Regions from separate parts of the Homo sapiens genome. Here all the other regions are linked to region 3. Evidence: fine-mapped expression QTL. A gene starts in region 3. Each other region holds a variant in brackets. All regions are shown on one strand. Distances are from middle to middle. Region 1 overlaps ABCC5 (ATP binding cassette subfamily C member 5). Region 2 overlaps ABCC5 (ATP binding cassette subfamily C member 5). Region 3 holds the start of ABCC5 (ATP binding cassette subfamily C member 5). Region 4 has its middle 31 kb from the start of MIR4448. Region 5 overlaps ABCC5 (ATP binding cassette subfamily C member 5).

Region 1 (5,103 bases), 66 kb before region 3:
ACATGAACGCTTCCTATTTACCTGGAGACAATGTGCAGGACTGAAAAGAGGATGACAAGGGGCCCCACTGCCACAAGGAACCACGGGAAGACTCCTGCGATCATTCCCACACAGAAGAACACCAGGATAACGTTCTGGATGAACATCTCGGCCTGGAACGGCAGCCGCACGTCAACTGTGGAAACAAATAAAGGAGCAAGTGTCAGATGGTTTGGAAAAATGGAACTGAAAATTGAAAAAAACAAAAAGGGGTTCCACAAACTCTCTATCTGAAGTTTGTGATGTTGTCTTTAAACAGTCTGATCAAAGAAAAATTTAGAAACCTGGATGCTCTGATTTTTTTTTTTCGTCTCAAGAAAATCCTCTTACTCCACTCCCTTTTCTTGGTTCCCTTCCTGCCCCACTGCTTTAAACATTTTCCCCCTTTACAAAGTAACTTATGCTTATTTTAAAATGTTTGGAAAATAAATATGTGAAGAAGAAAACAAAAACTATATTCTTACCAATACCAATGAACTGCTGTTAACATTTAAGACATTTTTTGTCTTGCAAAATTTTTAAACATACATAAAAATTAAAGGAAGAGCACAGACCCTTCAACAGTTATCAACTTTCATCTCTTTTTGGCTGTCTCCCCACCCCACCGCCTTTTTTCTTCTGGTTAAAGTATTTTCATGCAAATCCCAGACATGTTGCTATTATTTACTTTTTTTCTTTTTTCCATTCATGTGTGAGCACATGCGTGTGTGTTTAGCAGAAATGGGAACATGTTATGTATCAGTTCGAGTATCAGGGATAGTTCTGATTTCTTGTTACCTCTGGCCATGGGTTTACAATGGCCTATCAATGCCTGAAACAAACCCCTTCCATGAAGGCAGCTACAGTGCAGCAATTAAAAACATTAGCTTTGGGGTCAAAAAGATCTGGGTTCAATTTGCAGCTTTGTCACTCAATAGCTGTAGATCTTGGGCCAGTTCCTTGACCTTTCCAGATAGCAGCTTTCTCATTATTCAAGGAGTGAAACAACACCCGCCTGACAGGCCTGCTGCGGGGATTAAGGTAACATGCATAAAACACTGAGCATGCTGCTTGCTACACAGGAAGCCCCCTGTCAATGTCAGGGGCTTTACTGTTACTCTGAACTGTGGGGGTACAGTATTTCAGTTCTGGTGCAGGCACAGCCCATACAACAGCCAGAAAACCTGCCAGGTTGTAGGCATCCAGAAACCAATGCATTGCTTTAAAATCTGTGTGTGTTTCAGAATCTCAGATGCCTCTGTTCAAAGCCTTTCTGCTAACTCAATTCATTGAATTTATTTTCAGGTCAAACAAGACAGAAAATGCAGTTGCAATGTTCCTGGTGAAAACACCAGCAGTCACTGTGCTCTCAGGATCTACAGACAGACAGATCTGCACATTTGGAGAATCATCTAGAAGGCTGGAAGCACAGTGAGCTCCAGAGTATTAAAAAAAGGCTCAGTGAGAAATACCTTCATCCATGTCTTTGGAAAACCTGTTGAGAATCCTCCCTGTGGGGGTCGTGTCAAAAAACTTCATAGGGCTTCGAAGGATCCTTCGGAAAAGCTCGTCATGCAGCCGGGAGGAAGCTCGCAGCGTGCCCTGAGGAGCAGAGCACAGAGTGGTCAGGGCCCAGGGACGGCTCTGTTCCTACTGGTCCAGAGAACCGCTCCGCAGCACATCCACTCCCAAAGCGGGGAGGTGTGAGGGGTCAGGAGGGACAGGTGGCAAGTGAGAAAAGGTGGAGGCTAACGGAATATGAGTCATCTCAGCCAGGGCCATCCTGGTTAAGGGAGCTCCCCTACTCAGCATGAACTGAGAGACGCCACACCAAAGCCTGACCACAGGTCACCAGGGAGGAGGGCAGAGACCACCCACCAATGCATACCTTGACAAAGACAACTCCTCGAATGGCTTTCAGGATCAGCATGACTGCCATGGAGAGGGCGTAGATGCTGGCATAGTACTGCATATGAGGATTGTCCTTCATGCTGTCACTCACCGAGGTCTCGTTCCCTCGAGTCACAGTGGTGTTCTGTTTGAAGCCAAAGTTCTATGAGGCCAGACTCCTAACGACTGCCAAGAGCCCCTGCTCAGCGCCATTCTCAGCTCAAGGGCAGGGCAGGGTACAGGATAATGACCCACCCTGGGACCTGGTCATGGCTTTGTCCACCTCTTTTTTTTTTTTTTTTTTTTGAGACAGTGTCTCACTCTGTCACCCAGGCTGGAGTGCAGTGGCGCAATCATGGCTCACTGCACCCTCTGCCTCCTGAGTTCAAGAAATTCTCATGCCTCAGCCTCCCAAGTACGTGGGATTACAGGTGTGCACCACCATGCCCAGCTAATTTTTGTATTTTTAGTACAGACAGGGTTTTGCCATGTTGGCCATGCTGGTCTTGAACTCCTAGCCCCAAGTGATCCACCTGCCTTGGCCTCTCAAAGTGCTGGGATTACAGGCATGATCCACCACACCTAGCCCTCTTTCTCTCTATTCTAATGTCATATGGTTTGGCTTTGTGTCCCCACCCAAAGCTCATCTTGAATTGTAATTCCCAGGTGTTGAGGAAGGGACCCGGTGGGAGGTGACCGGATTGTGGGGTGGATTCCCCCATGCTATTCTTGTCGTGACAGTGAGTTCTCATGAGATCTGACAGTTTAAAAGTGTTTGACATGTCCTCCCGCACACGCTGTCTTGTCTCTCTTCTGCCACCTTGTGAAGAAGGTGCCTCCTTCTCCTTTGCCTTCCACCATGATTGTAAGTTTCCTGGGGCCTCCCCAGTTATGTGGAACTGTGAGTCAATTAACCCTCTTTCCTTTGTCAAGTACCCCGTCTTGGGTATTTCTCTGTAGCAGTGCAAAAATGGACTAATACACAACGGATGAGAACAGATAGCCTGCAGGTGTCCTACTGCACG[C/A]CCTACTGCCCTGTGGGTTGGTCAGCGTTTTTTTCCTTCTGGTGAGGCTACATTAGGGACTCATCTTTTCATCCTGGAAAAATCTCTCTTTACAGCTTCTTTTAAGTGAAAACTAGAACAGTTTCCCTAAGAATAGCCAGGGAATAGGGAGAAACGGCCACATTCTTAGACACAGAACTTTCCCATTTATGAGTAACCTTACCCCGCTTCCTTGCTTGATCCAGTAACTCAACCACCAGGTGCTGAAGGCGGTGCTGCCTACATTCAGCATGAAAAGGGCCATAATAACCAGGAATGCCAAGGGGCCCCCAGCAGCCTGGATGTAGACACCATATACTGACCAGGGCACTGAACCCTGCCCTTTCTCTTCCAGCTGCACAAGCTGCCCTAGGTAAGAAAAAAAGAAACATGGACTCAGAAGGGAAGAACTATTTCCATAAAACTAAGTCACCTGCAGAGCAACAGAATCGGACAACCGGCAGCTTCACAGGGGTCTAGATTAGATTTCCTCTTTGTCAGAAGCATTCATTCATCTATTTAACATTTACTGAGCACCTACCACAAACCAGACCCAGGATGAAGCCCAGGAGCAGCAAAGAGGATGAAGACCAGGTCCCCACCCCTAGGGACCTGGCTGAGGAGCCTGCCACAGACTGGTAGGACAGGCAGATCAATAATCACATAATTACAGTGAAATGTGCTCAATGTGATGATAGAGCTATACGCAGGGCAGCATGGGAACCCCTGGGAGGCATACTTGACCTATTTGGCTTAGGTGTGGGGTGGTTGGCAGGCATGTTTCAGGTAAGACTTTCTGTATTGCTTCTCAAAAGGTAAGCCACAGATGACCGGGTGGGGAAAGGAGAGAGCAGGCAGAGAAAACAACACAAGCACAGGCACGGGGTAGCAAAACACACCACCACAGTGATTCGGCACAGCTGGAACAGATGTGCACTTAAAGAATGGCAGGAGATGAGGCCGACTAAGCAGGCTGTGGTCACAGAAGAAAGGCTTTGAATTTTGGCCCCACAAAGAACTTCTCAACAGAAAGGGTGACAGGTGTGTCTGACTTCTGTTGGGCTAGGAAGGACCTGGGATGGCTGATATTGCCACACCAGCTGCCTCTGGGAGCGAGCAGCCTCTTTCATGCCTCCTGTGTTCCACACAAATAGCCTTTTCTGTATGTGCCCTATCAGGGAAAATATTTGAAAATGGAAGGTTACTGAAAGACTCCATGCAGGAAAGTTGGTTGGTCTCATGTTTTGTGTGTGTGTTTTTTTTTGAGATAGAGTCTCACTCTGTCGCCCAGGCTGGAGTGCAGTGGCGTGATCTCAGCTCACTGCAACCTCCGCCTTCCCGGGTTCAAGCAATTCTCCTGCCTTAGCCTCCCAAGTAGCTGGGATTATAGGCGCCCGCCACCACGCCTGGCTAATTTTTGTATTTTTAGTAGAGACGAGGTTTCACCATGTTGGCCAGGCTGGTCTCGAACTCCTGACCTCAGGTGATCTGCCTGCCTCAGCCTCCCAAAGTGCTGGGATTACAGGCATGAGCCACCGCACCTAGCTGGTCTCATGTTTTTAACTAGATCTCGCAGCTGACCGTGTGGAAGACAGGTTCAAAACGAGGCAGCTGTAACACTGTAGGTAAGAGATGATAAAGGCCTGAACTGGGGTTGTGATGGTGGGATGGAGTTTCGGGAGGTAAATTCAGTAGGACATAGTAACTGGCTGGCTGCTGGAGGAGAGAAAAGGTTCAAATATATTCCTGAGGATCTCCCTGGCGCACTCAGATTCTTAACACTAATATGAGAATACAGAATGTAAACCAGAAAGTACCTTGAGACGGGTCTCAATCAATTTAGGAGTTAATTTTGCCACGGTTAAGAATCATGACCAGTGACGCAGCCTCAGGAGGTCCTGAGAACAGGCCCAAGGCAGTTGGATTACAGCTTGGTTTTATGTTTTAGGGAGACATGAGACATCAATCAATATAAGTGGGGTAATCACTGGTTTGATCCGGAAAGGTGGGGCAACATGGGGCAGGGAGGTGCAGCTTAAAGGTCAAAGGTGAATTCAAAGATTTTCTGATTGGCAATTGGTTGAAAGGGTTAAGCTCTGCCTGAAGAGTTGAAATTAGCTTGAGTGGTGGGGGAGTGGTGGGGGACAGGGTG
Region 2 (5,103 bases), 41 kb before region 3:
TAGAGCAAGCCACCCTATTCCACTGGTGACAATCAGTGCAGCTTCACACTGCCTTTCTACAGGTTATCAAATCAATAAATTACAGGTTACATAAATAAATTTTATATCTCTTTTCCTATTCTTTATGCATACTACCCAACAGGAAGCAACAAGTTCTCCTGCCATATGCACTTGCAGGGTAGGTGAAATAGAGAAAAGACTATACTTGCAAATCTGTCAGATCTCCAACTCCAATTTAAAAAAGAAAGAAAGAAAATGATGTAAAACAAGACACAGGGTGAAAAGCAGGGCTCTGCAACATCGTCAGTGAGTTTCAAGGTCTGTAAAATGAATCAAAGAAGCAAGTCTCATCCTTGTTATTCTATATTCCATCTTCTAAAAATGATGAGAGGGCAGATGCTTTTGGGGAGATACAATCCCAGGAACAGTTCTGTTGTTTTCAAAAGGCTGCCTTAGATGGTCCCCCAAGATTGAGGCAAACTTCCTTTAACGTACTCAGAAACATAATAAACAGTTGCCTTACACCTAAAAAACAGCCCCCCAACCCTCATAAAGTCAATGTAATTCTAATTAATAGACATCTGAAGATAAGAAGAAAGAACCGGCTTAGAGTTCGGGAGGAATTAAGTAATAAACACTCGTTATCTTTTTTTTTCTGAGACAGAGTCTCGCTGTGTTGCCCAGGCTGGAGTGCAGTGGCGCGATCTCGACTCATGGCAACCCCTACCTCCCAGGTTCAAGCGATTCTCCTGCCTCAGCCTCCCGAGTAGCTGGGACTACAGGCACACACCACCACACCTGGCTAATTTTTTGGATTTTTAGTAGAGACAGGGTTTTACCATGTTGGCCAGGCTGGTCTTGAACTCCTGACCTCAAGTGATCCAACCACCTCAGCCTCCCAAAGTGTTGGGATTACAGGCGTGAGCCACCAAGGCTGGCCATAAATACTTGTTATCTTGTGCCAAGCATCTAATTAAAAAAAGAATAACAAGGAAAAAAAGAGACTGAGACCACCAAGAGAAGTAAGATAGAAGGGGTCTAAAGTCTCATGGGGCATCAAATAGAGCTGTGGGTGGTGCTGCTTCTACTATTAATTCTGAGGCTTCCTGGAGAGAGGAGGGACCTATGATGTGAAAGCCACCTGCTAATCCAAGTCCTCACTAATAAGCAGGAGATGAGAGCCCTCGAAAAACAAGGGGAGGACCAACCTACACTACATGCCCTTACTTTATCCAAAGTGCTACCAAATCCATTCACTAACAAGAATATAGAAATGAACAGCAGGGAGAACTTATGGTCAAACATTTGCTTTCATCCACGACTGGTTATTGCGGATTCAGCAAAATAAAGCTCTGAGTCCCATTAGGCCATTTTTTTTCATATGACTCAGCTCTTGGTTTTCTAAGAAGTGGCCACGTTGGGGTGGGGGAGGGGCACATTCGAAGACTAGCTTTCTTCCTTTCTCTCTTCTCTCCTTCCTTCCTTCTCTCTCTTCCCTCCCTCCCTTCCTTTTTCTTTCTTCTCTTTTTGTAAGAAACAAACAAACAACAACAAAAAAAAACAAAAACACAGATAAGAGTCTCATTCTGTTGCCCAGGCTGGAGTGCAGTGCCATGATCATAACTCACTGCAGGCTCGACCTCCTGGGCTCAAGCAATCTTCCCACCTCAGCCCCCCGGGTAGCTAGGACTGTGGGCGCACACCACTGCACCTGGCTATTTTTTTATTTTTTTGTAGAGACGGGGTCTTGCTGTGTTGCCCAGGCTGGTCTTGAACTCCTGGGCTCAAGTGAGCCACCTGCCTCAGCCTCCCAAAGAGCTGGGATTACAGGTGTGAGCCACCACACCCAGCCAGGACTAGCTTTCTTGACCAAATAAAAGTCACCCGGTCAACTGTAAACAAGTAGAATACAAACAAATCTCGGGAACTGAGTTTCCATGTTTCTTAAGAAGAAAATCCAATTTGTTTTCTCCTGAACCTCCAAGATGATTATATTCATCCCTCAAACATGTGAGCTTCAAGCCTTCACATCACCAAAATTGCTTTCTTATTCCTCTCACTGGCCAATAAAGACAAGCAGGGACATAGGAGCTAATCTATGCAGTGGCAACATCAAGGAATTCCAGCCCACATGGCATCCCTTTTTTTGTTAAGTATTAACCACTATCAAATATCTATTTCTCTCCACCCTCCCAAATATACTCCCTTTTGTATCATGTATGTGTAGTATTCTGAAGGAACAAAGAACACAGCCAAGGTATGATCAACTAACCACCTGCAAGAAAAGAAGCTGAGACTTACTTAACTGCACTTCTCAACATGACCTAGTTTTATGACTATTTCCATGTAACTGCTTTCCCTGCATCGTGAGTAGCACCACAGGGCAGGAAAAAGAAAGTATCAAAAAGGATTCAGCATGTCAATCAATCAAAGTGACAGTAGCAAAGATCAAGGGGAAGATGCCCCACAGTGCTGGTCTTCTAGGTTTAAGCCACTTCAAGGCCCAGTGAGTTGCGACACATCCATGTCAGGCCCAGGTGGAAGGGGCTAGCTCTAAAGGGGAACTCTGCAATCCTGGGAGCCCAGATCATGGCCGTTCACAAAAGGTAAAAATTCACATTAATTAAAAAAGGTGACAAGTCTCATCCCTCAATTCAGTCTCCTCCACTGCCCCCTTTTTCTTACCAACTTGCCAAAAGGCCAAAGCCAAGCTTAAGCCCAGTGAGGCCAGCCTGGGTGGCCCCTTGAACAGAGCCAGCAGTTAGTTGTGTGGGGAGGGCTCCTGACACGGGGGCAGGGGAAGGAGCCACTTACCTTAAATCTGTCAACAGCCACTGAGGCTTCTGAGAGGGACTTTACTGAAAACGGTGTTACTTTCAAAGCAAAAGTCATGGAATTGAAGACTGTCACCACTGTGAAAGCCTGAAAATAGGAGAAGAGAAGAAACTGTGCCTAATGATGCTATGCAACTGAAGTAACCTGACACCATGAATTTCCTCTCAGGCGCTAGGAAGGCTGCAACTTCACGGTCAGCTGTTATTACAAGTCAATTACATTTTTTTTTTTTTGAGACGGAGTCTCGCTCTGTCGCCCAGGCTGGAGTGCAGTGACAC[G/A]ATCTTGGCTCACTGCAACTTCCACCTCCCAGGTTCAAGCAATTCTCCTGCCTCAGCCTCCCGAGTAGCTGGGATTACAGGCATGCACCACTATGCCCAGCTAATTTTTGTATTTTTAGTAGAGACAGGGTTTCACCATGTTGGCCAGGCTGGTCTCAAACTTCTGACCTCAAGTGATCCGCCCGCCTCGGCCTCCCAAAGTGCTGGGATTACAGGCGTGAGCCACCATGCCTGGCCACATTTTTTTTTAAGTAGAGTTTTTGAGACCTTCAATTAAAATTGTCAGTAAATATGAACCACAGGATGATCTGTAATTTCAGAATTAAACTCAAACTTATGTTGACTAAAAACAACTCATACACTATTTGTGCATAAGGGCTGGCTCCCCACTCTTCTGCTTCTCAGCTTAATCCCATGAATGAAAAAATACCTACTAATTCTTGGGGGAACCTCCAGGTCCAGTAAGGAGAGGACCACAGCATCATCTCCATATGTGGTATTTTTTTTTTGTTTGTTTGTTTGTTTTGTTTTGAGATGGAGTCTTGCTCTGTCCCCCAGGCTGGAGTGCAATGGCATGATCTTGGCTCACTGTAACCTCCACCACCTGGGTTCAAGTGATTTTCCTGCCTCAGCCTCCAGCAAATGTGGTATTTCTAAAATGTTCCCCATCCCTGAGGGTTCCCTGACCTGTGCTGCTGTCAGATCGAAGCCCAGGGTCATATGAACAGAGAAGGTCACCACGCTGGCAATCACCACCACAATGGGAGCCACACCCACAGTGATGCTCTGGAAGTACCCAGCTTTTTCCAATATCCGACGCTCCTCCTCGCGGATTTCTATGAATAAAAAGCAAGCCAATTTCAAAGCAAGTTAAAAGAAGCCTAGGGATGTTGTTCCTCCACCTCCAAACAAGACTCTGTAGGTCTCCAGCCACCCTTCAACACCTATGACTATCAACTCTACCACTAAAGCTGGTATAAAAGGCTGAGGTTTGAAATGGATCAAGTGACAGGAATGAATCTAACAGAAAGCAGTCACTATGTATGAACTCAATCATCATCTTCTATGATACCTTTTTCTGATTCTTCTTGTAAATTTCTTAGGTTGAGAAGGAATGAACACATTAATTGTATCTATAATTGGCAGTTGTGTTTGCTTACCTGGTTGTTGTTGACTTTTTGCCTAAGGAATTAATAGGAAAGACAACACAATGGCACTGGAGAATTAAAAAGGGAGGGACTAAGAGGCCAGGTGCGGTGGCTCATGCCTATAATCCCAGTACTTTGGGAGGCCCAAAGCAGGGGGAATCACCTGAGGTCAGGTGTTCGAGACCAGCCTGGCCAACACGGCAAAACCCCGTCCCTGCTAAAAATACAAAAATTAGCCGGGTGTGGTAGTACACGCCTATGATCCCAGCTACTTGGGAGGCTGAGGCCGGAGAATTGCCTGAACCTGGGAGGTGGAAGTTGCAGTGCACCGAGATTGCACCGCTGTATTCCAGACTGGGTGACAAAGCCAGGCCTTATCTCAAAAAAAAAAAAAAAAGGGGCAGTGGGGAGGGAACTAACATTTCCCAGAGTGCCTGCTGTATGTTGGCAGTGGGATAGAAGCTTCCATATAAAAATGCAGTAATGACAACCGGAAGAAGATAGGTGAAATACAATTTCTATAGGCAGAATGATTTTTCTTAAATATTTGCAAAATCAACCCCCATATTAGCAAAGCAACCATAGTGTACTGAAGACCGTGGAGCAGGAAGCAGAACAATAAGATACTTTTTTTTCAGACGAGGTCTCGCTCTGTTGCTCAGGCTGGAGTGCAGTGGCACAATCACGGCTCACCGCAGCCTCAACCTCCATGGCTCAAGTGATCCTCCCATCTTAGCCTCCCAAGTAGCTGGGACCACAGATGTGCACTACCATGCCCAGTTATGTTTTATTTTTTGTAGAGAGGAGGTCTCAGTACGTTGTCCAGGCTGGTCTTGAACTCC
Region 3 (5,103 bases):
ATAGCTGTTACTTATCTTTAAAAAAAAAAAAAAAGTCACCTTGTCCAATGACAAACTACACCATAAAGAACAGCGGCTCACCAAGCCAGAGTGCAGCAATCACGTCATTGAGACCTCATTAAGGCTAAACTATAAACAGACCTGGCATCTGCCAGTGTCCCCAGTGTTGAGCTGTAGCTGTAGATCAGAGTAACCTTCTTACGGGAATCACGAAATTCTAACCTTCCCCTTCAAGGGTTCCCTAGCTTAGCTGATTATCTGGAAGAGGAAAAGATTAGTACTACCTTTTTAAAAGGTGGGGGTTGGGGCGGTGAGCAGTTTGAAACAGAGGAGGTCACTGGAACTCATCCACAATATGAAATGCCACATCAAGAAGAACACGAACATAATCTTAATTATCTAAGCACCCATGATAACCAAAGATTCTTTCAACCACTTTTATTTCAAAGGATGAAGTAGAATCAGTGGAGCACAGGAGCAGAGAGAGGCAGGGACAAAACGACTTCCCTGTTATGACACAAATAATGACTGTTTTGTGCCTACAGTGACTGCTGTGGTAGACACTGCTAAACTATCCTAAGGGACTAAGTTATTCTATGTATGAAGGGTGTGGGGAACAGTGTTCCATTATCTCTAACACACTCATCTCTACTTTCCTGGAAAAAGAGGCACAATCAGGAGAGCAGGCAGGCCCAAAGTAGGCACAAAGTTACTGTCTGTGGCCTTGAACATAAGGACACCATCGTCTGTGTATCTGGAACATAAAAGAGGGCACCCCACGTGGAGGCCGGCGAAGAGCTGGGAATCCTGACAGGTTTGGAAAGAAACAAAGCCCCAGTCTGAAGCAAGCAAGCAAGCAAGGATGGATCCCCAGGCCAGCCATTTTACTGATACTATTTATATTTCCCTATCTTCTCGTGTCCTCCTTTAAAGTTGTTGGAATATCTTTTTTAAATGCTCACTTGCCTCAGCTATCAAGAGAGGAAGAAAGAGAAGGGATTTTTGTTTGTAAAAAACAAACCTGTTGTCCAGACATGTACAAGGGTAGAAGCAGAATAATCAACGTGGGAGAACCCCAAAGAAGTGCCCAATAGGGTTGAGGCCACTTAGTCAGCTGCCCTTTTTTACCAAGATTCTCTTTCCACTGATAAAAGTGTAGACACTCTCCCTGCACAATGATACTGATTCAACTGCATGGCAGGAGGAGAGTTGCACGGGATTACCAGACTGGTGTGTGCAAGCTGCAGTCATCCCAACACTCATGAGTAGGTTTCCATCACCTCCAGGCCCTCAAGCTGCACGAGGAAGACACCACGCTAAAGGGATACGTATTTACCACACCCACTGTAATCCACTTGTTGCGTCTCCAAGCAGCCTCACCTTTCATACACGCTGCGGACCACAGTAAAACCTAGCCATCTCCTCCTCCAAGACCTCCTGAAACTTTCCCCGTCGTTCCTGTGCCCACCTGCCTCCAGCCTCTCCGTCTGTGCAGAAACCAAATGGCCCCTGTGTGATAAACACAAAGCCACCCGCGGCTCTGTGTGGCAGAAGCGAAAAGAGCACTGGATGACCGTGGAGAGATCTGGGCTGCGTTCCCGGCACAGCCACGGCTTTGCTGCGCGTGCTTATGTCACGTACCTCCATTTACCCGCTTGCAAAAACGAAGGGGATGACTTACTTCGAAGGTCGCTGGCGGCTCCGCTGCGGGTTGAGCAGGGTGCCCCGAGCCACCCGCTGCACAGCCTCCCAGGTGGGCGTTTCTCTCAGACCCGCTTCGCCTGGGATGCCCGGGCCCTAGGGCGTTCCCACAGCCCGCTCCGGCCTGCCCAGGCGAGCGCGACCCACACCCACGGCCCGCGGGCGCAGCGCCCCCTGGCGGCCGCGGCCAGGGACGTAGCCCGCGTCCCTGCCCGCTCATCCCGATCCTACCTGCCTGTCTTCCAGCACACGACCCCGTCACCAGACCCCGGGCTCACAGGCCTAGGAGGCGGCGGCAGGAGACCAGGGGGAGGCCATACGCCGTTCCCCAAGTCTCCAGTGTCCCCCGAACTGCTCGCAGCCCTGGCCACATCCCGCCACGCCCCGAGGAAATGCAAAGGGGTGATCCCCGTGACAACCGAGCTGGAGGGCAGGGGTGCGGCAGCAGCCATCACCTACCTGCGCCCCTGCTCCAGGACAACCGCGCCAGCCGCTCAACCACGCTCCCGAGCATGAGCCCTGCAGCAAAACAAGCCTTTATAGCGGCATCGGCCGCCACACCGCGCAAGCGCGCTGCACAAAGCATTCCCAAGGCTGAAGGGAACTGTAGTCCTCCTTCCGAGTGCCCAGGGCTGCGGACGCGGCGAAGGACTACATTTCCCAGAAGCGCCGGTGACATCCCGGGGGCGGTGCGGGCTGCCCCTCTTCCCACCGAGCTCCCGGCTCTGTTCCATCCTTCCCCGTGCCTCTGCGAGACTGTCTGGAATCTTCTCAGGGGTCGTGTTCCCTGGGGGAGGCAGCCGGGAGGCTTAACCGTGGCCCTGTGTTCGCACACAGTGCTGTTCGTAGGCAGAGCAGTCCCACCCTGCGTGGCCGTGTAGCTGCCAGAAAAGATCGTGAAGGTCATCGTAGCCCGCGTCTAACCCGTTGAGAGTCGTCAGGCCGGCCAGCCCCAGTTCTTATCTGTTGTGGCAGATACGATTGCTTGCTCATGGTTCGACCCTGCAGTCTGCGCAGATACCGCCTTTCTCACTTTAACACCAACTGCCCATCAATGTCTCGCTGCCTGGTCTCTAGATAATAAAATGCCAGGATCACAGTCTTAGAAGTGGCAAGAGCCTTAGAAATGTTATGCTAACTCATCTTCTTCTTTTTATAAATGAAACTGAAGCTCCCAGAAAGATTGATCCCTTTATTTCTCTGTTTCATCGGTACCTTCAGCATCATTAAATAAAAGCCACTGTTGAGTTCTTCCCTACCTTGTATCCGATGCTTTACATACCATTCTTGTTTCCTTTAATCTCCATTACAGCCCTATGAGTAGGTATTATGAGTTTTTTTTTTTTTTTAAGGAGTCTGGCTCTGTTGCCCAGGCTGGAGTGCAATGGCGCGATCTCGGCTCACTGCAGCGTCCGCCTTCCGGGTTCAAGCAGTTCTCCTTGCCTCAGCCTCCCGAGTAGCTGGGATTACAGGCGTCCGCCACCACGCCCGGCTAATTTTCGTATTTTTTAAGTAGAGACAGGGTTTCGCCATATTGGCCAGGCTGGTCTCGAACTCCCGACCTCAGGTAATCCGCCCGCCTCGGCTTCCCAAAGTGCTGGGATTACAGGCGCGAGCCACCTCACCCCGCCGTATTTTTTTTTAATTCAAAGATTAAAAAAGAAGAAGAAGAAGAGGAAGAGGAAGAAGGAGAAGGTAAAGTGACTTGTCCATCTTTATAACAGCTAGCTAGTTAGCTAGTGTGAAGACACTACTGTATCGTAAAGCAGCATATTCTTGCGCACGGATTGATAGACCAATGCAATAGAATAAAGAGCCCCCAAACAGACTGGTGCATCCATGTAACTTGATCTGTGACAGAAAACCTTACGAATCCGTGGGGAAAGCAAGAAGAGTCAGTAAATAGTACTGGAACAATTGGTTATACATATGAAAAAACAATCAGGGATTACCGCTTCATACCACACAGAAAAAACCCATTTCAGGTAGATCAAACGCTTAAATGTGAAAGGGAAAACTTAAAAACTTTTAGAAGAAGATAGGAAATATCTTTATGAACTTGGGAGTAGGAAAGAACTTTTTAAACAAGAAACAAAGAATAAAGGAAGAAAGATTGATAATTTTTGCCATATTAAAAGATGGCATAAATTGAAAAGATAAACCACAAGTTATAACTGACAAAGTTTTTGAATAATAAATATTCAAAATAATTTCTAAGTTCAGTAAGAAACGGCAGATAACCCAATAGGAAAATAGGTAAATGACATGAACAGACAGCTCACAGAATAGGAAACTTGAGCAGCCACTCAAATATGAAAAGACACCCAATCTCATTCATAATCAGGGAAATTGATTTTTTTTTTTTTTTTTTTGAGACAGAGTCTTTCTCTGTCCCTCAGGTTGGAGTGCAGTGGTGCCACCTCAGCTCACTGCAACCTCCACCTCCAGAGTTCAAGTAATTCTCCTGCCTCAGCCTCTGGAGTAGCTGGGACTACAGACACCGGCCACCGCACCCAGCTGATTTTTGTATTTTTCGTAGAGATGGGGTTTCACCATATTGGCCAGGCTGGTCTTGAGCTCCTGACCTTGTGATCCATCCACCTAGGCCCCCCAAAGTGCTGGGATTACAGGCGTGAGCCAACACGCCTGGCCTGGAAATGTAAATTAAAATAGTAATGAGATACCACCTCACCAAAGATTCTAGTACCTTCCAACAATGCCTCAAACACTGTAACACCCAAAACTGCAGATCTGATATCATCATATTTTTTAAAAAGCTTCTAAATCCCGCTGAAATACTTCATATATGTTGATTATAGTTTGTTTTTTATTAAAAAAGAATAGATGAACACCAGACAGCCTTGGTGGCAGGCTTCAATACACTGTAGTACTGTCTTGGTCTGTCCAAGTATAGTCTGAGTGAAAGAATTATACTTACAAAATTACCCCCTCAAAATGTGTTTGTGTTGTGAACTGTTTAGAGGGGCGATACTTCCCAACCCTCAGGCAAGGGGGCTAGAGAATCTATGTTGCAGTGTAGAATTGTGTGTCTTTTCTTTTCTTTCTTTTCTTTTTTTTAGATCTCGGCTCACTGTAACCTCCACCTCCAGGGTTCAAGTGATTCTGATTCTCCTGCCTTAGCCTCCAGAGCAGCTGGGATCACAGGCATGTCCCACCACACCTGGCTAATTTTTGTATTTTTAGTAAAGACGGGGTTTCACCATATTGTCCAGGCTGGTCTCGAACTCCTGAGCTCAAGTGATCGGCCCACCTCAGCCTCCCAAAGTGCTGGGATTACAGGAGTGAGCTACCGCGCCCGGCCAGAATTGTGGGTATTTCTAAATAATATTTATGTTGTGTAATGTACTAAACATATTCATTAAATATTTGGTAGAGATGCAG
Region 4 (5,103 bases), 100 kb before region 3:
CCTTGGAGAAACAGTGGTTAAGGAATGCTGGATCAACAGCTTTAGCCATGGGCCTGTGCCCAGGCAGGGGCCGTTTCCCATAGCAGACTGACCCTCACTGTAGATCCCGCAACACCCCCTCCTGTGGATAGATCTCAGAACAAAAGAACACCCCTTTCCCCTTCTAGAGCGACCCAAACCCAGTACCCACTCCACACTCAGTGCCTGGAAGTTGCTCCGCCCCACACCCCCACTCCAGCAAGGTAGGCCCACCCCCTACTTCTCCCTGACTAGGAAAGGGAGGAGATAAAAATAAGGAGCTACAGAGACCACTAGAGGTGGAAGGAATGAGAACTAGGCAGAAGAGACCCCCCTCCAGTTACCTCCATGCACCTGAACACAGAAGGAGAATTCCATTCCTTGCGGTTGTGTTTAACTTGTCCAATGTGTCCCAGTGCCCATGGGAGTGAATGGGAACAAATACAGGGGGCTTGCCTGCCTCTAGACATTATGTGAAGGCCCCAAAGGACAGGAGCTATTTCTGGGGAGGGCTGGGAGACCCAGGATCCTCTAACTGAAGGAGGGGCAGACTCAGGGACCACATCCAGGCAAGCCAGGGCACGGGCCAGCGCTAGAGGACATAGCCCTGCTTTGCATATTTTATTATCAATAGTTCCTTCTTTCACTCTTGGTGTGACTCTATGACCAGTGGTTCTGCACATCCCCAGGTTTCGTAGATGAAGAAAGGATGACGTGCTGCCTGACAGCTTGCAATGAACTCAGCATCTAGAATTTTGCAGAGTGTTCCAGTGGAGTTCCCACGGGGAGCTGCTTTCCTTCAAGCCCAGCTTTGAGTAAGGGGAGCGGGGCAGTGGGACTCGCCACTGCCATGCTGTGCTCCAGCCAGGATGATCTCAGGGCACAGGGAGAGGCTTCGTGTCCGAAGAGTGTGGCAAAGGGCAGCCAACATCCTCCCCCTCCCTGCCCCCAACACACACACCCACAATCGCACCCCATCAAGGGCAGTAGAATTAGCCATCCAACCAGAATGATGTCTTTATTGTTCCCAGGATATTCATCTTATCCGAGAATGATTCATGGCAGCTATTATTTAAAATATTAAAAATATTCAAGGCTGGGCACAGTGACTCATGCCTGTAATCCCAGCACTTTGGGAGGCCGAGGCAGGTGGATCACCTGAGGTCAGGAGTTCGAGACCAGCCTGGCCGACATGGCAAAATCCCATCTCTACTGAAAATAAAGAAATTAGCCAGGCGTGGTGGCACGGGCCTGTAATCCCAGCTACATGGGAGGCTGAGGCAGAATTGCTTGAACTCGGGAGGTGGAGGTTGCAGTGAGCTAAAATCGTGCCACTGCACTCCAGCCTGGGAGACAGAGCGAGACTCCATTTCAATAAATGAATAAATAAATAATATTCAAGACGGTCAAAAGGAAAGATCAAAATATTATGAAGGATGAGGGAAACAAGCTGAGATAAACATACAGGGCCCTGAGCTTCCTGTCGGCTAAAATAAGAAGGAGGAAACAATGTGTTCCAGAATCCTCACTGAGAAGCAGAGAATTTTCCCGAGATCAGATTCTGAAAGGGATTTCTTGTGTGGACACAACTGCCAACAGAGATTTTTTTTTTTTTTTTTTTTTTTTTTTTTGAGACAGAGTTTCACTCTTGTTGCCCAGGCTGGAGTGCAGTGGCACAATCAACTCACTGCAACCTCTATTTTCCGGTTTCAAGTGGTTCTCCTGCCTCAGCCTCCCAAGTAGCTGGGATTACAGGTGCCTGCCCCCACGCCTGGCTAATTTTTGTATTTTGTATTTTCAGTAGAGACAGGGTTTCACCATGTTGGCCAGGCTGGTCTCGAACTCCTGACCTCATGATCTGCCCACCTTGGCTTCCCAAAGTGCTGGGTTACAGGTGTGAGCCACCACGCCTGGCCTGCCAACAGAGATTTTATGGAAGATGAAGTAGCAGGTTTCTTCATGTGCCCATTTCCGAGAGTGACTCC[A/G]GGACTCGCCAAGGGTATTGAAACTGAAGGAGTGGTAGTCTTTCTCCAAGTACAACACGGCTCGGCTGGGGATTGAAGGGTAGAACCTGATCATACGTAGGCATGGCGGGATGGCATGTATGTTCCCAAGGTGTCACTTCTCTTAGCCAAACATTGTTTTGCTTATTATCTAAGTATGAATGCCAGCGATTATATCAAATGGTAGGTGGCTGGGATCCAGCCCCTGTATTTTGATCAGCTGTCAGGATCCCAGAGAAAATATACACAGAGGCTGCTCTAGCAAAACCTTTCTGTTGACGACTTCACGCCTTTGGCACTGAGAGGCAGCGTGGTGGGCTAGTCCGGAGAGTCTGGTGCCTGAAGACTCCTGTGGCTGGAGGAGTTGCCCAGGGCCCAGAAACTAGCAGCCCCAGGCCCACATCCTTATTACAATGGACCTTTAGATCTTACCACATCCTAGGAAAGGAAGGGAGATCGGAGATAGGGAATACCAAGGACAAGAGAGAAAGGGTGTCTCTGAATAACCCAGGGCAGGACTGGCCAGGTGCCATCCCTGGACTCCTAGGTCATGACCGAGAAACTCAGAGGAGGAGAAAGGGTGAGAAAAAGTGAGCAAGTTACTTAAAGTTTCTCTTCTCCTTTGGACTATAATCTCCCTGTGTCTTGTTTCTGGTCTCCTGTGCCCAGCAGAAGGTATGGGACCTAGTGACTGTTCAATAAATAGTTTTTGGGAAAAGAGCCCGAGGGGGCTGGAGTCCAGGTATTGGGAGGCTGAGGGAAGAGGCAGTTGGATCAGTAAGTCTGGAAGAAGTGGGGAGCTAAAGTTCCCGGAGGGCAGGCCACTCTCAGAGGCCCATGGGAATGACATCAGATGGAGACTCCCAGAGTGGGCCTCACGGCACCTTTTTTCTCACCAGTGGTCAGAATGGCCCCAGGACTGCAGCCCACCAGATTCTTTGTCAAGGACACAAAAAATGAGTCAGAGAAGTCTCCCCCAGCCCCTAGCCCCGTGAACCAACCATTCCAGGCAACGTCAGTATCTCTGCCCCAACAGGTGTGTGCCCACGGTCCTAACTGCCTGGTGCTGGCCTGTCCTAGCTGGGTATGGAGCTCCCCTTTGAGAACAGGGCTGTGCCAGGTCTGCGGGAGACCAAGTACTAGCTCTGATGGTTCTCACTTGGACAGCAGCCAGCTTAGTCCTCCTAAGCTGAGTCCACCTGAGCAGGTAGAAGGGAGTTTGCCTGAGCCAAGGAAGAATGCTGAATTCAGGCCACAGGCAGAAAGAAACAGGACACAGAAAAGATTCCAGGAAAAGAGGAAATCTGCTCCCAGTACACACCACCTCCCTAGTGGAAGCAAAGAGGAAGAGGCAGAGTTCTAGAGCCATGTCCCAAATGAGGTGAGCAGGATCCAGGTTTTTCAGGTCCTAGTTATGGACTCACACTAGTCATGGAGTTAGAGCTGGAAGAAATCTTAGAGGCAATCTGATCTAGCACATGCATTTGATGAAATTGAATTTGCTGATGAAATTGAAGCTCAGGTCATGAGATGAGGAACAGCTTGAACTCTGGGAGCAGGCTGTTTGGGTTTGAATTCTGTGTGATTCACTTCATACTGGATATTGGCTTGAGACAAGTTAAATCTTCACGAGCCTTTCCTCATCAGCAAAATGTGCTTAATTTTAGCTACCTTGTAAAGTGGTTGAGAAAATCACGTAAGGCCATGCTAGAAGTACCTAGTACAGTGCTTAGCTTACAGGTGCCCCTGAGTTCTAGCCAAGAAAACGAGCACAGAAGCGATGTCTAATGTTTTCAGGCCTGTTTCATAACACTTTCTGCTCAACATTCTGTGCTCTCTTCTCTGATCAGCACAGTGGATCCAGCAGAGAAGCTCAAATCTAGAGGTTTGCAGGGTGACCAGGAGGGAGGGAGACTGGGTTCCTGAACGCACGGGCAGAACCTTCATTCCACCCCTCCACAGACCACACTGCTTTGCTACAGGAGTTTGGTTACTGTGGTAAACTGCTGAAAGTCTGGGCTTGTTTCTTACACCTGTTAGCCTACTCTACTTGGCAACAGAGAATTATGAGCTGGGAAAGCACAAAATGGCAAAATGGAAATTGCTTTTAAAAATCCAATTTAGGCTGGGCACAGTGACTCATGCCTGTAATCCCAGCAGTTTGAAGGGTCTCGTTCTGCTGACCTTGTTACCTTCTTGGAAGATAAATCTAGTGCCTCAGTAAAAGTGGTTACCGTTTAGATTGGAGCTGCCCAACAGAACTTCCTGCAATGATCGACACGTCCTATATCTGCACTGTACATTACTATGTTGTACAGGTCGCATACAGCTACTGAGCGCTTGAAATGTGACACTCTAGGAACTAAAGTTTTAACTTTAGAGTCAAGCTCCTGGGTTCTCACGACAGCACAGGTACTTTAGAAAAATTAGTATAATTTCTACTGATGGCCAGCAAACTAATACCAGTTTAAAAGCTTTCTTGGCTGCATTCAACACAATATAGTCAGAAACTTTAGAATGAGTACCCTTTGCTTTTTTTTTTTTTTTTTTTTTGAGACGGAGTCTCACTCTGTCGCCCAGGCTGGTGTGCAATGGCACGATCTCAGCTCACCGCAACCTCCACCTCCGAGTTCAAGTGATTCTCCTGCCTCAGCCTCCTGAGTAGCTGGGACTACAGGTGCCTGCCACCACACCAGGCTAATTTTTGTATTTTTAGTAGAGACGGGGTTACTAATTTTCAATGGGTGAATCTGAATGAATTGGCTGAAAGGGTAATTATATTGTTTGAATTGCTAAGAATCCTCGATAAACTATTCATTTTAAATACATCTCACCACGACCACCCACCTCACCACAACCACTCACCTTTCCACTCCCCACCCTCTTATGGGCAGCCAAGGAGCTTTATTTGGGGACCATGTCCAGGAACACAGGCAGCGGGACTAAGGCCCACAGAGATGATTCCAGGTGTTCAGGGCCCCATGGCCCTTGCAACCAACCAGCTTTGCTACCAGTCCTTCCCAGATGCAACTCCATTGCTGGATATGCAGGTCCCAAAGCCATTCAGGGATATCTCACTCCC
Region 5 (5,103 bases), 89 kb before region 3:
CATGCTCTGTGACAGTGAGCATGTACAATTAATTCTTTTTTTCCCTTGAATCCAATATGGCTGGTAACATACTGGACAAAAGGACATTCTTTTCCTGTTTATAAAATGAAGGGGCTGGATTGGATGACCTTAAAGTCTCTTGCAATTTTAAAATCTATGTCGGCCAGACACGGTGGCTCACGCCTGTAATCCCAGCACTTTGGGAGGCCAAAGCGGGCAGATCACGAGGTCAAGAGATCGAGACTATCCTGGCCAACATGGTGAAACCCCATCTCTACTAAAAATGCAAAAATTAGCTGGGCATGGTGGCGCACGCCTGTAATCCCAGCTACTCGGGAGGCTGAGGCAGGAGAATCACTTGAACCTGGGAGGTGGAGGTTGCAGTGAGCCGAGATTTGGCCACTACACTCCAGCCTGGAGACAGAGCAAGACTCCGTCTCAAAAAAAAAAAAAATCTTCTATGTCTATGGTTTGCAGTCGTACAACTACTCAATGGCCAGAAACAAAAGTTGGTCTTGGATGAAGGTAAAAACAAAGCAACCCTGTTCTCCCTCCCCAGAACCAATATACCCAAATTGTGTCAGGGTTAGAGTTATCTCTGGTCATGCTCTTAGAAAGTGCCAACAGGGATCAGAGCCAGGAATACCTTTGGACCCCAGTGTGTCAGGGCAAGGCTGCACTAAAACATTCCCATTCTCTGCTGCTGCCAACCCCAAACTGCCTTACCTTACAGTGGCGGAGCAGGGCTCTAGCTATGCACAAGAGCTGCCGTTCCCCCACTGAGAAGTTATCCCCATTCTCCATCACTTCAGATTCAAGTTTCAGAGGTAGCTGAGCAATCTAGGGAGAAAGAAACTAGAGATCAGAGGGGTAAGAAACTAAGCTGAATTTCCTGAAAATCCAAGGACAGAAAGAAATGATTCTGAAAGCGATGAAAGAACTATTAGCCAAGAACCTGTCTCATCTGGAATGAAGGTGCAGGTGTACTGATCATGCGTGCTAGGACCCACTTCCAAGGCAGTCCCTGATTCCAATAGACTATTCTGTTAGCTTTATACCATTAAAACATCCCAGAAATCCCAACGCTTTCATGTCCCCAAAATCCAGTCACATAGTGGGCCTTAAGTTTTGGTTCTGAAAATATGGTCTTGCAATAGGAAATAGTATAGTAAGGAAAAGTACTCTCCTTCTGAAGTCCAAAGCCGTAGGCCCGTGCCTGTGAAACATTTTTTGTAAGCTGCAGAACTTATTCTTCAAATGAGAAGAATCCCGATAGAGCAGAGGAAAAAACAGAACTCATCTACTAATAGTTGAATTAGGGCAGGGGATCCTGGATCCTGACTCAACCCAGGCATAACAGAAGCCTCACCCTAGGCCAGTGGTATCAACCTGTAGACTGCAGCTGCTCGTGAGGGCCTGTGAGGGCCTACTGAGTTGTCCCAAAATGTCTGTGGTCCATGGTCCATATGCACACTGTGTGCTTTCTGCAGACTCAATATGTTATGTATCTTTTTTTTTTTTTTTTTGAGACAGAGTTTTGCTCTTGTTGCCCAGGCTGGAGTGCAGTGGTGCGCTCTCGCTCACTGCAACCTCTGTCTCCTGGGCTCAAGCGATTCTCCTGTCTCAGCCTCCTGAGTAGCTGGGATTACAGGTGCATGCCACCACACCCGGCTAATTTTTGTATTTTTAGTAGGGACAGGGTTTCATCATATTGGTCAGGCTGGTCTCGAACTCCTGACCTCAGGTGATCCACCTGCCTCGGCCTCCCAAAGTGCTGGGATTACAGGCGAGAGCCACTGCGCCCGGCCACGTTATATATCTTTTGCGTATATGTGGACGCTTCAAAGTATGTTACACTGTTATGACTAATAAATTAAAAGCATCACTTAATTCTAAGTAGTTGTCATTACTATCTTCAATCAATGGATAGTGCAAGGCCAATATGACCGTAGGCAGTGTGGGCGGTGGGGTTGAGAGGGATCAGCTTTTCCCAGGTATCTGAAAGACTTGGAGAGCCCTGCCACGAAGCCTTTGTCCACAGGCATCCTGGAGGCACGGCCAGAGCAGACGGGGTGTGGCAAGGGCACTGCTGTGCTTCCACCCTCACCATCTCAGCACGGCTTCCCCTAAGCTCTTCACTTACACATTCTTTCATGTGTGTCCTCTCCAGGGCATCCCAAATCTGGTCTTCAGTGTACTGGTTGAAGGGGTCCAAATTTGATCTAGGGAGAAACACAGGAATTTCTCAGTGGTCCCACCCTAAGCGACCCATTGGCAAAGGCTGTCTGTGGAAGATGTTTAACACACATGCATAGGGAGAGAAGACTCCAAACCCTGATGGTCACAGACGGCTCATTCCACAACCAGACAGATGGGAGCTCTGACAGCACACTGGGCCACCTCCTCAGCTCCATAAAACTTGATTTATTCTTTTACTATTTTTACTATGTAAATAATACTAGTTATAGAACAATTTATAAATGCAAATATCGGCAAATATCCTTCTAGATTTTTTCCTGTGCGTGTATTTGTTAAAATACATCTTTCGGCTGGGTGCAATGGCTCATGTTTGTAATCCCAGCACTTTGGGAGGCCGAGGCGGGTGGATTACTTGAGGTCAGGAGTTCAGGACCAGCCTGGCCAACATGGTGAATCCCTGTCTCTACTAAAAATACAAAAATTAGCCAGG[T/C]GTGGTGGTGGGCACCTGTAATCCCAGCTACTCAGAAAGCTGAGGCAGGAGAATTGCTTGAACCCAGGAGGCAGTGGTTGCAGTGAGCTGAGATCACACCACTGCACTCTAGCCTGGGCGACAGAGTGAGACTCCATCTCAATAAATAAAATAAAATAAAATAAAAAATAAATCTCTCCATACGTACAAACTTAGAAATGCACCCTCTTTCTCTTGGTTTACCTGGTTCACAACCCTGTAATTGAGTATGGGGCTCCAGGACAGCTGGCCTGACCAGGGAAAGAAACTGATCCAGTAGAAGGGAAGAGGAAGAAGGAGAGAAAGAATAAAGGACAAGTCAAGAAAAAGGAATTTTCCTGGCACAGAAGACCAGTTTGGGGACCATTTTTGCTTACTGTGCCAACAGTATCTACCTCAAGGAAATCAGAGTTGATACCAAAAGAACGAGACTAGAAATTTTTTTTTTTACAGGCGCATGCCACGTAATTTTTGTGTTTTTTGTAGAGATGGGGTTTTGCCATGTTGCCCAGGCTGGTCTCAAATTCCAGTGCTCAAGCTCAAGTGATGAGCCTACCTGGGCCTCCCAAAATGCTGGGATTACAGGCATGAGCCACTGTGCCCGGCCAGGACTAGAAATGTTTAGGACAGGAGAAAATTATCTTTGCCACTGAGGATGAGGGTGGAGAATTGGTGGTGGAACAGGTATTTGGTGGAAAACTGGGATGTTACAGTAATTTTGGACGGCTTGTCTTGATCTACACATAACATTTGGAGGTCTAGTAATCTGAAAAGTATATTTGCTTTGCTCATAAAATTATGCCTGGCATGTGGGAAACAGGAAACTCTCTGGGAGAAACATGGACTTTTACTCTATGCCACACACCTGTCTCCATATCTGGGGTTACTAATTACAGGCATGCAAATACAATCACGTCATTATCACAGAACTCTAGTGAGAGGACAGCAGGCCGGCACCGCCTCATTCCTGCTATCTGGGCATCTCTCGATCTCCTGGGAGATTCTGACCCGCCTTGCTCTCCAGCGCCTCTTGCCCTTTGCACGGCGTTTTTCCCGCTTGGAACATGCTCGCTTCTCACTACCCTTGGCCCAGGAAGTGTTGTTTAATATGGTACAGTTTAATGGGTTGACCTGTGTCTCCCCAAAAGACACCTAAGTACCTAAGAATGTGACCTTATTTGGAAATAGGGTAATTTGCAGATGTAATTAGTTAAGATGAGGTCATACCAGAGTAATAGAGAAGGGTGGGCCCTTAATCCCATATGACTGGTCCTTATGAGAGATGGCCACGTGAAGGCAGAGAAACACTGGGAGGGCATCATGTGACAATGGAGGCAGAGGCCAGAGGGATGCATCCAAAGCCAAGGAATGCCAAAGATGGCCACAACTACCAGAAGCTGGAAGAGGCAAGGAAGCGTCCTTCCCTATAGGGTTCAGTGGCAGCATGGCCCAAATGACACTTTGATTTTAGACTTCCAGCCCCCGGAACTGTGAGATAGTACATTTCTGTTGTTTGAAGCCATCCAGTTTGTGGCTTAAACTGTTTATGACAGCCCCAGGAAACACATACAGCAAGTAAGTCCATCAGATGCCTCTGGATCAAAGAGCAGGCATGGAGCCCCCTTTCATCCACAAGGATATGCTCCAGGGAGCCCCGGTGGATGCCTCAAACCACAAATAGTACTGAACCGTATAAATGCTATGTTTTTTTCCCCTATATATACATACCTATGATAAAGTTTAATTTATAAATTAGGCACAGTAAGAGATTAACAATAATGAAATCAAGCAATTATAACAATATGCTGTAATGAACATTATTTGACTGTGGTCTGTCTCTTGCAAAATATAGTATGTAATATTTTTGGACCCTGGTTGATCATGGGTAACTGAAACTGCAGAAAGTGAAACCATGGAGAAGCGAGAACTGCTGTACACAAAAGCGCGGTCTCCTGCCCACTGAGTAGCCGGCCCTATCAGATTTTCTATGGGCAAATACGACAACAGGCTTAACTTTTTTTTTTTTTTTTTTTTGAGACAGAATCTTGCTCTGTCACCCAGGCTGGAGTGCAGTGGCATGATCTCAGCTCACTGCAACCCCTGCCCTGCCCCGCCAGGTTCAAGCAATTCTCATGCCTCAGCCTCCCAAGTAGCTGGGACTACAGGTGTGCGCCACCACACCTGGCTAACTTTTGTATTTTTTGGTAGAGATAGGGTTTTGCCATGTTGGCCAGGCTGGTCTTGAACTCCAGGTCTCAGGTGATCCATCCGCCTTGGCTTCCCAAAGTGTTGGGATTACAGGCGTGAGCCACTGTGCCCAGCCCAGGCTTAACATTCAATTCACCCAGGTCCATCACACCAGCTGAAGGAGCCTCAGACCACTAAACAATGGGTTC

Evidence for each region.
Region 1: its variant is fine-mapped to the expression of ABCC5 in whole blood (TOPMed, PIP above 0.99).
Region 2: its variant is fine-mapped to the expression of ABCC5 in whole blood (TOPMed, PIP above 0.99).
Region 4: its variant is fine-mapped to the expression of ABCC5 in whole blood (TOPMed, PIP 0.92).
Region 5: its variant is fine-mapped to the expression of ABCC5 in whole blood (TOPMed, PIP above 0.99).

What each region holds. Positions count from the first base shown.
Region 1 is chr3:183,949,951-183,955,053 of GRCh38, forward strand. It overlaps ABCC5 (ATP binding cassette subfamily C member 5), which reads right to left. Exons shown (of 30, transcript NM_005688.4): 18 at 3,136-3,320; 19 at 1,907-2,053; 20 at 1,491-1,620; 21 at 22-175. Among named protein-coding and RNA genes, the nearest start is that of ABCC5-AS1, 54 kb to the right of the region's middle. The variant C/A (reference allele first, on the strand shown) is at 2,934.
Region 2 is chr3:183,974,703-183,979,805 of GRCh38, forward strand. ABCC5 (ATP binding cassette subfamily C member 5) reads right to left here. Exons shown (of 30, transcript NM_005688.4): 9 at 3,801-3,949; 10 at 2,815-2,922. Among named protein-coding and RNA genes, the nearest start is that of ABCC5-AS1, 29 kb to the right of the region's middle. The variant G/A (reference allele first, on the strand shown) is at 3,114.
Region 3 is chr3:184,015,670-184,020,772 of GRCh38, forward strand. ABCC5 (ATP binding cassette subfamily C member 5) reads right to left here and starts at 2,215. Exons shown (of 30, transcript NM_005688.4): 1 at 2,161-2,215. RefSeq lists a silencer at 1,783-1,952 and an enhancer at 2,433-2,612.
Region 4 is chr3:183,914,801-183,919,903 of GRCh38, forward strand. No RefSeq gene overlaps it. Among named protein-coding and RNA genes, the nearest start is that of MIR4448, 31 kb to the left of the region's middle. The variant A/G (reference allele first, on the strand shown) is at 2,004.
Region 5 is chr3:183,926,604-183,931,706 of GRCh38, forward strand. It overlaps ABCC5 (ATP binding cassette subfamily C member 5), which reads right to left. Exons shown (of 30, transcript NM_005688.4): 27 at 2,144-2,222; 28 at 727-840. Among named protein-coding and RNA genes, the nearest start is that of MIR4448, 42 kb to the left of the region's middle. The variant T/C (reference allele first, on the strand shown) is at 2,690.